Homo sapiens: one gene and its partner. The protein of the gene in region 1 interacts with the protein of each later gene in a biochemical or structural test. Each region holds a gene or a part of one and is shown on either strand. Other genes may lie near its edges.

The links. The genes of interacting proteins can lie anywhere in the genome.
Region 2: of the proteins of IRAG1 (region 1) and PRKG1, one has a biochemical effect on the other in vitro, tested with the Homo sapiens proteins (one study listed by BioGRID).

What each region holds. Positions count from the first base shown.
Region 1 is NC_000011.10:10,620,467-10,628,131, forward strand, and holds part of IRAG1 (inositol 1,4,5-triphosphate receptor associated 1), read right to left. Parts: intron 7,560-7,665; coding exon 7,507-7,559; intron 7,298-7,506; coding exon of another isoform or gene 7,295-7,297; coding exon 7,250-7,294; intron 6,118-7,249; coding exon 5,500-6,117; intron 3,391-5,499; coding exon 3,312-3,390; intron 1-3,311.
Region 2 is NC_000010.11:52,287,979-52,295,643, forward strand, and holds part of PRKG1 (cGMP-dependent protein kinase 1), read left to right. Parts: intron 1-747; coding exon 748-870; intron 871-952; coding exon 953-1,015; intron 1,016-2,245; coding exon 2,246-2,312; intron 2,313-5,823; coding exon 5,824-5,922; 3' UTR 5,923-7,665. UniProt on the Homo sapiens protein: Serine/threonine protein kinase that acts as a key mediator of the nitric oxide (NO)/cGMP signaling pathway. GMP binding activates PRKG1, which phosphorylates serines and threonines on many cellular proteins.

The sequences.
Region 1 (7,665 bases):
CCCCAGACCTAAATGGGTACACGGGCAAAGATGTAAGAAGTTAAGTCACCCAGTAAGAAAACAAAGTGACTATTTTAACATTTTAAGTTTGAGCTTCCTAGCAAATTAATTGAAATAATAATGAAATTTCACACTAATAATAATAAACTTAAAACAATGACAATTATTGATTATTCTTACTATATTCTGAATAATAAGGAGCAGAAGCAAACACCAGCACGGGTAATGCGTAAGAGAAAGATGTCCATTCAGTCTTTGTCAGTAGCGTTATTCATTGTAAGTAATTTGGGAAATGCAAATGTTTCTACTCTTTAACCTTGTGATTCTCAAGTCTGAACACTTATCTCAAGGGAATGATTTAAAGGAAGAAAAAAGAACAACTAACGGTCCATAATTGTTTATACTAGCATTGTTAATCCTAGTTCAAAGAACAATAGATAGGTCAATACAAGAGGAACTATGCACCCATTAAATCATAACTGAGGAGAAATTGCTGAGTATAAAATAACAAGTAAAAAAAAGAAGCTGTATCTATTCATCAAATCAACTGAAAACATTATAAATATGGGCAAATATTGCAAAGAAGAAAAATTGTTAGTTTTTCAGAATTGATGGGGTTGTGGGTGAAATTTTAAAGTGTTTTTTCCAGTGTTTTAAATATGCTTTAGTAAATTTAAAATTATAATTAGAGAAGTATATGCTGCATTTTCAAAAGATCTCTTTAAAGATGGTTATTTAAAATATTTTGCCCTTGGGAAAAAACACTGTTTGAAATTTTACTTCTGGGAACCTTCTTATTAATGCTGAATAAATAGGTAGGTGTAAGTTACTACAGTTCAGACCAGGGGCTTCCACCATTGTTAGTGACATCCTGGACACATTCACCCAAGAATCCATAGGGCTCTTATGCTGAGACTGGCCCCCAGCAGCTTGAAGCGGGGCAAGGATTTTCAAATGGTGCTCTGTGAAGCCTGGGTCCCTGGAGGTACCTTGGGCCCACAGTCTCAGAAGATGAAGGATCCAAGCCCTTCTATCCCCTTCAACCAGAGCAGCCCCATTTGCATCTCCCCAACACGCTGGCCTCCTACAGATCAGCTTGTCTGAAATGTTGTGCAGCTTAAAAAAAGTTTTAAAACTGTTCATGAGATGGCCAAACCATGAGATTTGGAGTCAGGAGATCCTCGGGCCTCAGTTTCCTCAACTATAAGAGCAAGAATCCCTGCCCCTCTTAGCTGACTGGGAAGATTACATAAAATCAGAGGTAACAAAATGGTTTATACTGTGGAAAATGCTATGGGAAGTTTATTAATTAAGATTGAATTAAAAGGACTAGGTGACACGGATGAACCTTGAAGATGTTTTACTAATTGAAATGAGCTCGACACAAAAGGACAGATACTGTATGATTCCATTTCTAGGAGGGATCTAGAAGAGTCAAATACATAGAGACAGAAAGTAGAAGGTGATCACCAGGGGCTGGGGAGGGAGGGAATAAAGAGTTATTGTTTTAATGAGTATGGCATTTCAGTTTGCAATGATGAAAACGTTCTAGAAATGGATAGTGGTGATGGCTTCATAATATGAATGTACTTACTGCCACTGAACTGTATACTTAAAAATGGCTAAAATGGCAAGTTGAATGTTATATATATTTACAATAAAAAATAGTCCCCCACCCCCTCTGAAAAAGGGAGTACTATATAGAGTAAAATACAAAAGAAAGTCAAGAAAGTAGAAGATTGCAGAGCTGGTGGGACTAACCCACTGCTTTAAGGAACAGGTACCATATGACTCAGAGAGGAGGGAGATAGCCCAGCAGGAGGGAGATGCCGCGGGGACAGAGGCACAGAGGCTAGAGGGTGAGTGGCCACAGAGAAGAGGCTCTGGGAAGAGGGAAGAGCCAGGAGCCTGGCCTGTTGGAAACACTCATCTCTCTCCACTCACCCATGCCTCTTTGCCCACCTCATGGCACTATGGTTACAGTTACAAATTATTTTCATGTACCTATCTCAATGCTCCTGCCACATCTTTTTAAAAATGTTTCTTTTGAGACAGGATCTCACTCTGTACCCCAGAGCGAGACCCTAGAGTACAGTGGCACGATCACAGTTCACTGCAGCCTTGACCTCCCAGGCTCAAGCGATCCTCCCACCTCAGCCTCCCGGGTAGCTGGGACTACAGGTGTGTGTCACCATGCCCAGGTAATTTTTGTATTTTTTGTAGAGATGGGGCTTCGTCATGCTGCCCAGACTGGTCTCAAAGTCCTCAGCTCAAGCAAGCCACCTCCCTCCCAAAGTGCTGGGATTACAGGTTCACCTAGCCCCCTGCCACATCTCATACAATTTCATTCGTTCATTCAACAAATACCTATGCAGGCCCTAGTAGTGCCAGGCATTGTTGTAAGCAGTGGACACACACACACACACACACACACACTCCTGCCCTTGGGGGCTTCTTCTCTAGGGATAATAGCTGACACCTAGATAACACCTGTCATGTACCAGGTATTGTTTTAGGTACTTTATAGATATTAGCTGCTTTAATCTCCATAATCACCTAAGAAGGCAGGTACTGTTCTTAGCCTGGTTTTACATGCCCAGGGAGGTTGAATAGCTTGCCCAGGTCACCTGAGTGGTAGCAGGGCTTACAGTTCCAACTCGTGGTGGGGCTCGACATACTCATGCAGGAGAATGGGGCCGAGGAAGGGTGTTGGGGGCACTGGGAGCAGGGCTGGACTTGCCCAGCTAGATCTAGAGGGGTCAGAACCCTACTGAGAACATCGGCAGAGGTGAGTGCAGAGAGGGAGGCAGTGCGGGGGCTGAAGCCTCATTTTCAGAACCATTTTCCCCGCCATGGTTCTGGCAGAAGGTGGACAGGGAACCAGAGGCTTGGAGGAAGGGGCCTGCAGCTACCCAGCAGGGCAGGGCTGGGGTATGGACTTTGTGGTGACAGCAGATTAGTAAGCAAGAGATGGCCGTGATGCCTTGAAAAGAGGAACTCTTCAGTTTGGGCAGCTTCCTGGGTGTACGAGGAAAAGGAAGTGTCAAAAGTTCAGGCCTGAGGCACCCTTCCAGGCCCACTAGATGCCAGCATGGCTTAGGGAGGGCTGACAGCGAGGCCTGGGGGCTGGTTGGAAGGAGGCAGGTTTGGAGGTGCTGAGCGGGCAGAAGACACAATCGGATTCATTCATTCACCAGCAAATGTTTCCTGAGGAAGACACAGGAAGTCTTGTGTTTACACATTCACCTTCCTTGATCTGGCACAGACAAATCAGCACTCGCTGAGACAGCATCTGCCCCAACCCCACCTACCTTTTTCCTGCTCAGCTGCTTCACTAAGGTCTGGAAGCTTGAGCCCCACTAAGTTCTGATTTCTCATCAGGATGTGCTCCTTTGTGGTAAAAGAAAGAGATAACAATTTCAGATGATGACACTGGGCTGGGCTGTTCTCTTGGCTCTGTCTATGGTTCTGCGACCACTATCTTAGGTGGGAAAGCGGGGCAGCCTGAGAGGTGGGTGGGCAGGCATGGCATGGTGAGGCCTGAGAAGCACCAGGAAATAGTTCCTCTCCCAGTCCGTGAAGGTGCCTGAAACGCCACTGTCAGCACCACTTTCCATGGGTCAGGGACTACCCTTGGCATGGTCTTTTTAAACAAGTCTGTGGGCTTCAGGGTAAATGAACTGCTTGGCCTCACTGTGGCTGAGGTTTGCAAAGGACACACAGGGGCAGAACTAAGGGCTCTGGGACAGGAGGGTCCCCTGGGTGTGTATGGCGCTGCTCCTGGAAACAGCTTTGGCGATCTCATGGCTGGCTGGATCTTCCTGCCCTGTCATTCCGGGCAGTGACTGCTCACTTCCAGGAGCTGCGATTGCCCCACACACTCAGGTCATCAATGGCCTTTTATGGCACCTCTTGAGTTTTTAAACTCTCCAGAAAAGTGAGGCCTGAGAATTGCTGGCTTAGGGCCTCAGCTGGCAGAGCCCGGGGAGAGATGGGATGTGGCCCAAGTGGGCTCACACCTGCTCTAAGCCAATTAGCACCAGACCAAGGACCTGAGTGGAGGCACCTGGCAGAGCTCCTTGCCCCTGTGACTTATGGATCTTCAGTCTGCTGTGTGGCAGAGGGCACTTGGGAATGGTTTGTCCCCCGAGAAGGGAGGAAAGGAAGGGGCCAGCAGAGGGTGCTCATGATCCAAGTGGAAGTCATGGTCAAGGACCCTTTACCCATTTGGTTAGCAAGCCAGAGGCCCACAGCCCATCAGCTTCAGCACACTGGAGTCGGGTAGGGGCTGGGCACTCAGGTGCCAGGGTAGTGGTTAGTGACATGGGGCCTCCAGGTTCCCTGTAACTTCTCTGGGTGGGCGAAATCTGCAGGAGTGTAGGGAGTGAGGAGGCTCTGATAACCAGAGGCCCATGAAGGCAAATCCCTGGCTATCGGCCCCTTGGCTCCAACTTCCGCTAGAGATCCGGGACTGTGGCAACTCCTCTGGGCCCTGTGCTGTTTGATCCGCTAGTTAGTTGGGTCTTTCTGACTAGGAGGAGTTTTGTGTGTAAAATGTTAACATCAGCAGCCACGCCCCAGCTCCCCTGTGCCTCCAGTTCAGAGCATCATGAAGGTATCTGAATAGGATAGTGGCCAGCATTGGAATGTGTCCCTGCCAGCACACAAATCCCCTCAATTGTGCTTGAGTGCTATCGGGCACCTTCTTTTCTTCCCTGCCCCACATTTCCCTCTGTAGAGGAGCCAGGAGAAGCCTCCTGCTCTGAGGGTGCTGGGCCTCACTCTGTGGAATCCAGGTGCCTTGGTTTATATTCCAAGTGGGCCTTCTGGAGGAGACAGGACTGGTCAGAATTGCTTTGTCCTGTTATCTGGTCTCTATCTCTGGATGCCCCCAATCATACCCTGCATAGGGTGGCAACCCCACAGGAGACCGCTGTGCCTGGTTTGATGGCCAACAGAAGCTGAGGGGACACCATGGGCACTGGAAGAAACTCACCATGGGCGGAGCAGCCTTCACACTTGCAGATGGACTTAAAGCTTTTGTTAACAGGCATCAGGAAGGAAGGCTTGGGGGCATCACAAAGGAAATCACTATTTCACCCTTGCTAGCTAATCCTAGGCATGACTGGGCACTCCATCAAGGGATTCCTGTTTATGAGCCACTGACTCCGGTTGGAGGAGGAAAGCAGCCCAGGACTGAGGGGCCCACATGTCCCTCCACACGTCTGCCTTCCCCTGAGATGTGGCTTTGTGTGGCAACTAGATTTTAGACTGAGCTCTGCCTGGTAACTGGCATAAAAAAGCACCTAAAACTGGTATTTAGGAAAGAGATGCCACATAAATAGGCCTGACTTCTCAGAGTGGGAAAATTTACGCCCTCACAAGGCCCAAGTCCAGGCCAGAGCTGCCCTGGCCAGGGGCCCAGACTCAGCCCTGAGGTCTTCAGCCCAGGGAGTACCTGGAGTACACACTCTGCCCAACTGGCCCCCAGGAACCCACCTCTCGGAGCTTGGTCAGTTTCTGCATCCGCACGGGCTGCACTTGTATCTGAAAGTCTTTGAGACCAGGGGCCTTGGCCAGCTTGCCGCCGGCCTTGCCTGCAAAACGCTTTTCTTCCTCTGCCAGTGGCAGCTTGGCAAGCACTTTCTGCAGCCGGGGGCCAGGTTCTTCAGGGCCACTGTCCCAGGAGAGCCCTCGCAGCAGCGGGGGCCGGGACACAGTGGGTGGAAGCTCAGCTTTGGAGCCAGCCTCGGGCCCCATCGGCTCTCCAGCTGGGCCTCTCCCCTGGGAGGCTGGGGGACCCACTCCTGCCGCATCCTGGGTTGGACTTCTCGGCAGAGGGCTGCCCTCCCAGCCCGTTTTCAAGAGCTGCTTCCCCAGCTCGCTCTCCACGGGGCCAGGCTGAGGGCTGTTCAGGGCCATTTTCCCACTGCTGTTTGTAACAGGAGCTAGGCCTTTGGGTGTGGTCTCGGGGTACTGGAGGGGATCGAAGTTTTCCTTTTGTTCTATTGCAATCTCTTTGGACTTCTCAACTGGAGGAGGACGAGGAGCCAGCCTGCCCTGAGACACTTTCCTCTGGTCATTCTGCTTCCTGTCAGCTAGCCCTTTGGGGACGTTCTGAAAAAGACAAGGTAGAGCTGGAACCCTCGGGGGCAGGTTGAGGGGAAACAGGTGAGGCCACTTCTGCTGTGGAGTCTCTGCCCCCACACACCTTGCCAAGGGGCCCATTTGTATAAGTGTGTATGGGGTATGAGTGGACGATGTGGAAGGAGAGGGCTTCTGCCCGAGGTTTGTCAAACAGACAGGAAAATGGAACCTGCAATCCAAAACCAGCCAAGAATTTCCCAAGGGATAGGAGCTGAGGAAAACTGAATAGAAGGCAGCTTTGGCCCTAACTCAGTTGCCCCAGATCTAGCCTTGGTGCTGCTTAGCAAGGCCCTTAACTCTTAGGGACCCAGGTTTGTGAACCCTCTGAAATTATGTATGTGTATGTCTGTGTGTGGAGGGGTGTTTTTCTAGGAAAAACATCCACAGCTTTCAACAATTTCTCAGAGTTCCATGATCCAAAGAGGTTAGGGATCATTGGATGGGGTGATTCTTGCAAAGGTGATGTCTTCCTGCTCAGAAGCTCTAAGATTCTGCAGTGTTAGTTTACTTTGTTCATTCCCCAAGGGAAACCTGGGCCGTGAGCAGCACGTGGGTCTGGGGGTCTGTGTGGCTGCCTCGTGTGTGCTGAGACTCTTCCAGAGGACTGTATCCCAGACCCAGTTCCAGGTGACACTAAATTCTACTGCTGCCCTTGAAACACTGAGCACGTGGGCCCCTCGATGTGAGCAGGGTGGGGCGCTTCTGTTGCTCATCAACAAAGATGAGGTTTTCCCGGCTTCCCCAGACAGAATCCCAGGCAGGGGCTGGCGCTTTCCTGCCCTTTTCACTGGAGCTGACAGGAGCCACAGTCTCACCTGGCCTGGAGGTCCCCCTTGTCTCCAACCAGCAGCCTGACTGGGGGTCAGCGCTGTGAGTATTGCCTCCACGGAGTTCACCCCCCTGAATCCTGCCTCCCCACCCCTCCACCTTAGACTTCTAGTCACTATAAGGCAGGGGAATCTGCTGTTTCCCCAGCCCTGACCCTCCACTCATACGTGTGCATGCACACACACTTGAAGGCTGCCCAGGAGCCAGCCTAGGCTTCTAGGAGACTGTGCCCCCCACACTCAAATCATCCAAAGGGAGCAAAGCTCAAACTCACAGGCTCGCCAGGGTGAGGTGAAGAGACGTCGGCCTCATCCCCCTTCTGCTGGAGAAGGTGAACAGGAGTCAGTCAGCAATGGGAAGAGACCGTGTTTCCTCTTGAAATATCCCCAAGGAGGCCCCCTAGCAGTGGTGTTCATGCCCTCCACCCAGCACCCTCATCTCCAGTGGGTCACGAAGGGCCTCCTGGTGTTCGGGGTAAGGGGAGAGACCCATTGGCATAGAAACAGCACAGCAGGTGGGGGGTCCTGTCACCTGTGGTGGTGCTCCAGGCAGAGGGGATGGCGGGCCACTGCACACATCCAAACCTGGAAGGGTCCAGACACTAGTGAGTGAGGCCCAGCAGCCCAGGCCCTCAGCTGTGCTTTCAGCCACATCTCCCTCCCCGGGCTATCCTCCCTTTGCAATCTCAGG
Region 2 (7,665 bases), on another chromosome or scaffold:
TGAAAAGATAATTACAAAGTACAATAAGTGGCATAAGGGTGCTATAAAAGTGTAACAGGGACTCTAATTTAGATTAAACTTTAAACTAGAGCATGAAATTAGATTGCTAGGTTACGTGGGTTGATATAGGTTATGTAATTGGTTGTAATAGGTTGACCAGAGTAGGCCTTTTGGAGGAAACAGCATAACACTTATACTGAAACTTGATAAAGTGAGGCATTGGCCAGATAAGTATGGGAAGAACCTTCCAGACCAAATAAGTAACACCATGAGGTAGGAAAGTGCTCGGCATTTCAGTGGAACAGAGAGAAGGCTATTGTTTCTGGATCCCAGTGAGTGAGGGTGGTAATGGCATGAGGTGGGGTAGTATCGTTGGTGTTCCTGCGGCCCCTCCTAATGATTTTGGACTTCATCTCAAGTATAATCAATGAGTCAGTAAGTGTGGAAAAGGTCAGAGAGTAGAAGAAGCATCTTGAATGACCAAGGACAGCATGAGGGCTTAGACTCCAGCACTTAAAAGAAAGCAAGAGAAGAGCAGATAAACTTGACCCATTTCTGGTTTCACTAAGTGATTTACTTGGAAGGGCTTCCACACTGTTTTGCTATTAATCTATTTTCATTCCATTGTCACTATTAATCTAAGCCCCCAAATATGAATTGATGTCATCTGTGGAGTTTATAGCAATTCAAGTGTTCTCATGTAGAAAATAAAAGTAATATCTCTTGTCGTGTCTCTCATTCTTGCAGCCCACCTTTCTCAGGCCCAGATCCTATGAAAACCTATAACATCATATTGAGGGGGATTGACATGATAGAATTTCCAAAGAAGATTGCCAAAAATGCTGCTAATTTAATTAAAAAACTATGCAGGTAAGTATTTCAACCACATTATTTTTGAAAACATCATAATGTGAAAAAATTAGATTTAATAAAACCATTATTTTATTTTTAGGGACAATCCATCAGAAAGATTAGGGAATTTGAAAAATGGAGTAAAAGACATTCAAAAGCACAAGTAAGTGTTCTTTCTGCAGAGTTCTGAACACGTGACATCATTTCCCCAGGGTGTTGCTTTTTAAGTTATTGGTGTAAAACTAGTATAATTAGCCTATAGGAACATCCAAAGACAGCGTATAAACTAGTAAGGCTTTTAAATGCCTTTCTAGTTGTGATTATGAAACCTTATTTATATTTATCTGACAACCCTGTAACATAAGAAGCTGAACTCAGTTTCTTACAACTCATACCAACTAGCATTTTTTTCCCCTCTGGCACAAAGGGGAAATGTGTATTTTAAATTTGGGGATTCTATTCTCTACCACAGAATTACAAATAAAAGTCCCCTACTGTATCTTACCTGATTTCCTAAAGACAAAATATATTTTTCCAAGCATTTCCTAATTAGATGTTATAACAGGAGAAAAACATAAGTACAGAATACAGTGTTTTTTAAACAATAGCAACATCTTAAATATCAGACCTTCCCTATGTTGATTGGATGTTCTAAAGCTAAACTAATTGGGTTTTCTCTATTTGTTTGTGTAACACTGACAGGAAATTCACATCCTTATCAAAGAAACATGTTTACTAAAATATCTCTGAATATCTGAAAAGCCTGCTAAGAATTTGTTGTAAGCATTTGCTAATGCTGAAACCCTTCAAAGACAAAAGAAAACAAACAAGCAAAAACTTTAGTCTTTTTTGGTTCTTATTTTCACAGAAAAACTGTACACAAAATATCTTTATTCTTCATTAAAAAAGGGAAAAAAAGAAGAAAATGGGACATGTAGAGACTATGACAATGATGTGAAAAGGTTAATTAGCTGACACTGTGCACTGAATCAGTGGCAAAAATGGAAAGTTAATTTTCTATCCTGACTTTTCATGCCCTGGTTCTACCTCCTTAAAATAAAATATCCTGTAAGGCACAGGGCCAGACACATTATGACATGTATTAAATTTTAATTATAGTGTAGGAACAAGGTCATAGAGACATTATGACTGAATTACAAGGAATAAGTGTTGCATGTTAATTGGTGTTTAAAATTTGACAGTTATACTTTTAAAAATATGTATTTCATAAAATAAACTATTAGGAAAACATATGCAATTAAATAGAAAACATTTTTGTCACATGAAAATGTTTGCCTAACTGCTTCCCATTAGCCATGGACATTGTATACACTGCAATGAGAAGCTTTTAGCTGACACAAAATGTTTTTATCAACGTTTTTTCCTTTTCTAGATGGTTTGAGGGCTTTAACTGGGAAGGCTTAAGAAAAGGTACCTTGACACCTCCTATAATACCAAGTGTAAGTAGACTTTCCAGCTTATAATTGTGTGACATAATTGATGGTGTTTATGTCAGTCAACAATGATCTGTTATTTTTAAAGTTTAATCCTATGATTAAGTTAAACAAACTCTAGGAAAAATGTCACATTAAAATAATGACATATTCTAAAATCCAAACTTGAAAGCAGATAAATTTGGGGATAGTCACTGTAAATGTGTTTTACTCTTCTCTTTTTTAACTATTCATTTGATTCAAGTTTCCCTCATTTATGAACATAAGTTAATTTTTAGCATGGGAAATGTTCAAAATATAGAAATGCAGACAAAAATATATAGGTGAGAGGATCACTTGAGGCCAGGAGTTCAAGAGTTCAAGACCAGCCAGCCTGGACAACATAGTGAGACTCTGTCTCTACAAAAAAAGAAAAGAAAATACTAGCCAGGTGTGCTGATGTGCACCTATAGTCCTAACTACTCAAAAGTCTGGAGCAGGAGGATCACTTGAGCCCAGGAATTTGAGCTTACAGTGAGCTGTGATTGTACCACTATACTTCAGCTTGGGTGACAGAGTGGAAAGACCCTGTCTCTAAAAAAAGAAATAAAATAACACTTTTTCAAAGAGTCTTTACATGATCACTCTTTTTTTTTTTTTTTTTTAATTTTTTTTTTGAGATGGAGTCTTAATCTGTCACCCAGGCTGGAATGCAGTGGCGTGATCTCGGCTTACTGCAACCCCTGCATCCCAGGTTCAAGCAATTCTCCTGCCTCAGTCTCCTGAGTAGCTGGGATTGTAGGCAAGTGCCACCACTCCCAGCTAATTTTGGTATTTTTAGTAGAGACACAGTTTCACCATGTTGGCCAGGCTGGTCTTGAATTCCTGACCTCAAGTGATCCTCCCACCTCGGCCTCCCAAGGGTTGGGATTACAGACGTGAGCACCGCGCTGGGCCTACGTGATCACTCTTTTATTTTTTTATTTTTTTATTTTTTTATTATTATTATACTTTAAGTTTTAGGGTACATGTGCACAATGTGCAGGTTAGTTACATATGTATACATGTGCCATGCTGGTGTGCTGCACCCATTAACTTGTCATTTAGCATTAGGTGTATCTCCTAAAGCTATCCCTCCCCCCTCCCCCCACCCCACAACAGTCCCCAGAGTGTGATGGTCCCCTTCCTGTGTTCATGTGTTCTCATTGTTCAGTTCCCACCTATGAGTGAGAATATGCGGTGTTTGGTTTTTTGTTCTTGCGATAGTTTACTGAGAAATGATTTCCAATTTCATCCACGTCCCTACAAAGGACATGAACTCATCATTTTTATGGCTGCATAGTATTCCATGGTGTATACGTGCCACATTTTCTTAATCCAGTCTATCATTCTTGGACATTTGGGTTAGTTCCAAGTCTTTGCTATTGTGAATAGTGCCGCAATAAACATACGTGTGCATGTGTCTTTATAGCAGCATGATTTATAGTCATTTGGGTATATACCCAGTAATGGGATGGCTGGGTCAAATGGTATTTCTAGTTCTAGATCCCTGAGGAATCGCCACACTGACTTCCACAATGGTTTAACTAGTTTACAGTCCCACCAACAGTGTAAAAGTGTTCCTATTTCTCCACATCCTCTCCAGCACCTGTTGTTTCCTGACTTTTTAATGATCGCCATTCTAACTGGTGTGAGATGGTATCTCATTGTTGTGTTGATTTGCATTTCTCTGATGGCCAGTGATCCAGTGATGATGAGTATTTTTTCATGTGTTTTTTGGCTGCATAAATGTCTTCTTTTGAGAAGTGTCGGTTCATGTCCTTGGCCCACTTTTTGATGGGGTTGTTTGTTTTTTTTCTTGTAAATTTGTTTGAGTTCATTGTAGATTCTGGATATTAGCCCTTTGTCAGATGAGTAGGTTGCGAAAATTTTCTCCCATTTTGTAGGTTGCCTGTTCACTCTGATGGTAGTTTCTTTTGCAGTGCAGGAGCTCTTTAGTTTAATTAGATCCCATTTGTCAATTTTGGCTTTTGTTGCCATTGCTTTTGGTGTTTTAGACATGAAGTCCTTGCCCATGCCTATGTCCTGAATGGTAATGCCTAGGTCTTCTTCTAGGGTTTTTATGGTTTTAGGTCTAACGTTTAAGTCTTTAATCCATCTTGAATTAATTTTTGTATAAGGTGTAAGGAAGGGATCCAGTTTCAGCTTTCTACATATGGCTAGCCAGTTTTCCCAGCACCATTTATTAAATAGGGAATCGTTTCCCCATTGCTTGTTTTTCTCAGGTTTGTCAAAGATCAGATAGTTGTAGATATGCGGCGTTATTTCTGAGGGCTCTGTTCTGTTCCATTGATCTATATCTCTGTTTTGGTACCAGTACCATGCTGTTTTGGTTACTCTAGCCTTGTAGTATAGATGCAGAAAAGGCCTCTGACAAAATTTAACAACCCTTCATGCTAAAAACTCTCAATAAATTAGGTATTGATGGGACATATCTCAAAATAATAAGAGCTATCTATGACAAACCCACAGCCAATATCATACTGAATGGGCAAAAACTGGAAGCATTCCCTTTGAAAACTGGCACAAGACAGGGATGCCCTCTCTCACCACTCCTATTCAACATAGTGTTGGAAGTTCTGGTCAGGGCAATTAGGCAGGAGAAGTAAATAAAGGGTATTCAATTAGGAAAAGAGGAAGTCAAATTGTCCCTGTTTGCAGATGACATGATTATATATACAGAAAACCCCATTGTCTCAGCCCAAAATCTCCTTAAGCTGATAAGCAACTTCAGCAAAGTCTCAGGATACAAAATCAATGTACAAAAATCACAAGCATTCTTATACACCAATAACAGACAAACAGAGAGCCAAATCATGAGTGAACTCCCATTCACAATTGCTTCAAAGAGAATAAAATACCTAGGAATCCAACTTCCAAGGGATGTGAAGGACCTCTTCAAGGAGAACTACAACCCACTGCTCAATGAAATAAAAGAGGAAACAAACAAATGGAAGAACATTCCATGCTCATGGGTAGGAAGAATCAATATCGTGAAAATGGCCATACTGCCCAAGGTAATTTATAGATTCAATGCCATCCCCATCAAGCTACCAATGACTTTCTTCACAGAATTGGAAAAAACTACTTTAAAGTTCATATGGAACCAAAAAAGAGCCTGCATCGCCAAGTCAATCCTGAGCCAAAGAACAAAGCTGGAGGCATCACGCTACATGATCACTCTTATACTTTCATGGCATCTTTGTTTCCATAGCTCTAGCCAAAGTTTATTATATAGAAAGATTTTAGTGATTATTTGTTTTAATCATACAGTTTATTACTCACAAGGGTATAAACTCTCCAAGGATAAGAACCATGTCTGCTTGTACTTACCACTGTGACCCTCAATACCTGCTACATAGTAGATACTCAATGAAATAGTCACTAATAGGGAATAAATACAGAATGCACTTAAAAATTCCAGCTTGGAATTCCACTAAAAAAAATCCACTAAAAAAAACCTGTCCATTTTTTACAGGTTGCATCACCCACAGACACAAGTAATTTTGACAGTTTCCCTGAGGACAACGATGAACCACCACCTGATGACAACTCAGGATGGGATATAGACTTCTAATGTATTTCTCTTACCTGCTTCTGCCTTGCTGAAGACAGCTTTTTCTGAGACACAGCTGCCAGCAAACCTGAGGGAAAGAGAGAAGATTAGTGCTCGGGGTCACCATGATGCCTTTGATCGATGCTGCTCCAGTAACTACAGTGGCATTAGGACTTACCGCTTAGATGACAATAGTGCTCTTTACATGTTTTCTGTTTGAACCTAAAATAGCAGTTGACATGGTGGTCCTGAAGCAAAGCCTTTCACCAGTAAAAGATGTTTTCTATTGTTGCAATGACCTTGCTTTGCTCTGATTATAATTTGAAAGACTGTAGGAAACACTTCAATGTAGTATAAGAGTCTGTACCTTGCTGGAATATTCAAGAAGATGAAAGAATAATATATTGGGTACAATAGATTACTATGGTACAGAAACTGGGCTATTCCCTTTCTTCAAGTGAAGGCTGTGGGATCTATTACTGCAGGCCGGTGTATATACCATACAAAAGAGGACCACACATCTGTTGGTCACAGAGTTCATGTCACACCAGTGCTAGAAGTTTCATGATTTTATTTCCCAGCAGTGCTGATGACAAGACTGAATGTTACCTTTTCTTTCTGACAGATTTTAAAAATTGATATGATAAAAGCACAACTGCTATAGATTCTGCTGAGACCTCTCATAGTAGGTATATATGAGTTTTCACAGAAGACTGAAAAATAATGCATGATATTTGTTTGTTTTTTTTGATAAATTGGCATGACAGAGTGGGGAAAAAAAGCAATTCACAAAACCATTTCATATTTTTTAAAATATTGTGCTTAAAGATGGTCCTGGAAGTAAATGACTAGCAGCCAATTGGTTTTACTTAACATACCCTCAAACTGAGGCTTAAAGTATTCCCTTTTATAAAAATAAATGCTTGGGGTAGGGTGGAGTGGGGAGGGATTAAAACCCATCCAAAAAATAAATAAAAACTATATAGGTGCTATGTATATCTTTCATCTGTAAATGTCAGTGTCTGAACAGACAACACAAATTCAAATCATTATACGTGTAGCCAGAAACTCAAGCATTTTCACTAAAGTTATTAAACCAAACTCCTGTCCAATTTCACTTATACAACATAGTCAGTCTAGAGTTGAGAGACAAAGGTAATTATAAACCTATTTGAACTAGCTTCTTGTCTTAGGCCTGAACCAAAAAACAACAAACAAACAAAAAACAAGAATGAAAAACAGAAATAAAAGAAGTAGAAAAGACAAAGAAAGAAAGCCCAAAGTCAAAGTTGTTAATATTTACAGGTTTACCAGATCTGGAACATTACTTATTTGAGGTCAGAGAACAAAACAAGAACCTGGCCAGGTGTTGATTACCTTTTAGTGAATAAGCTGAGTCCATATACTTGTCTAACTAAGAAAGCAGTACAGAGGAAAACAGGAACCTGATTTTTTTAAAATAAATTTTAAATAAAATAGAATTACTACAATTCTGCAATTTCATACTACCTAAAAAAGACTAGATTTGAAAATGTCAAGCTGATTTACTTTATTCACATGGAGAAAAGAATCCACAAATTAAACTGAGTCCTTCACTGGCATGCCAGTTGACTATTATTAGCTGTCATAAGTAACTCAGCCATTTGGAAGCATTTCCTGGACAAAATTACATTATACCTGTGAAGAAAAATATAGAAGCTTTCAAGCTGTCATTCTGTTTTGGCCCTGTGTGAATTTGGTATATTAAATTGACGCTTGCTTTTT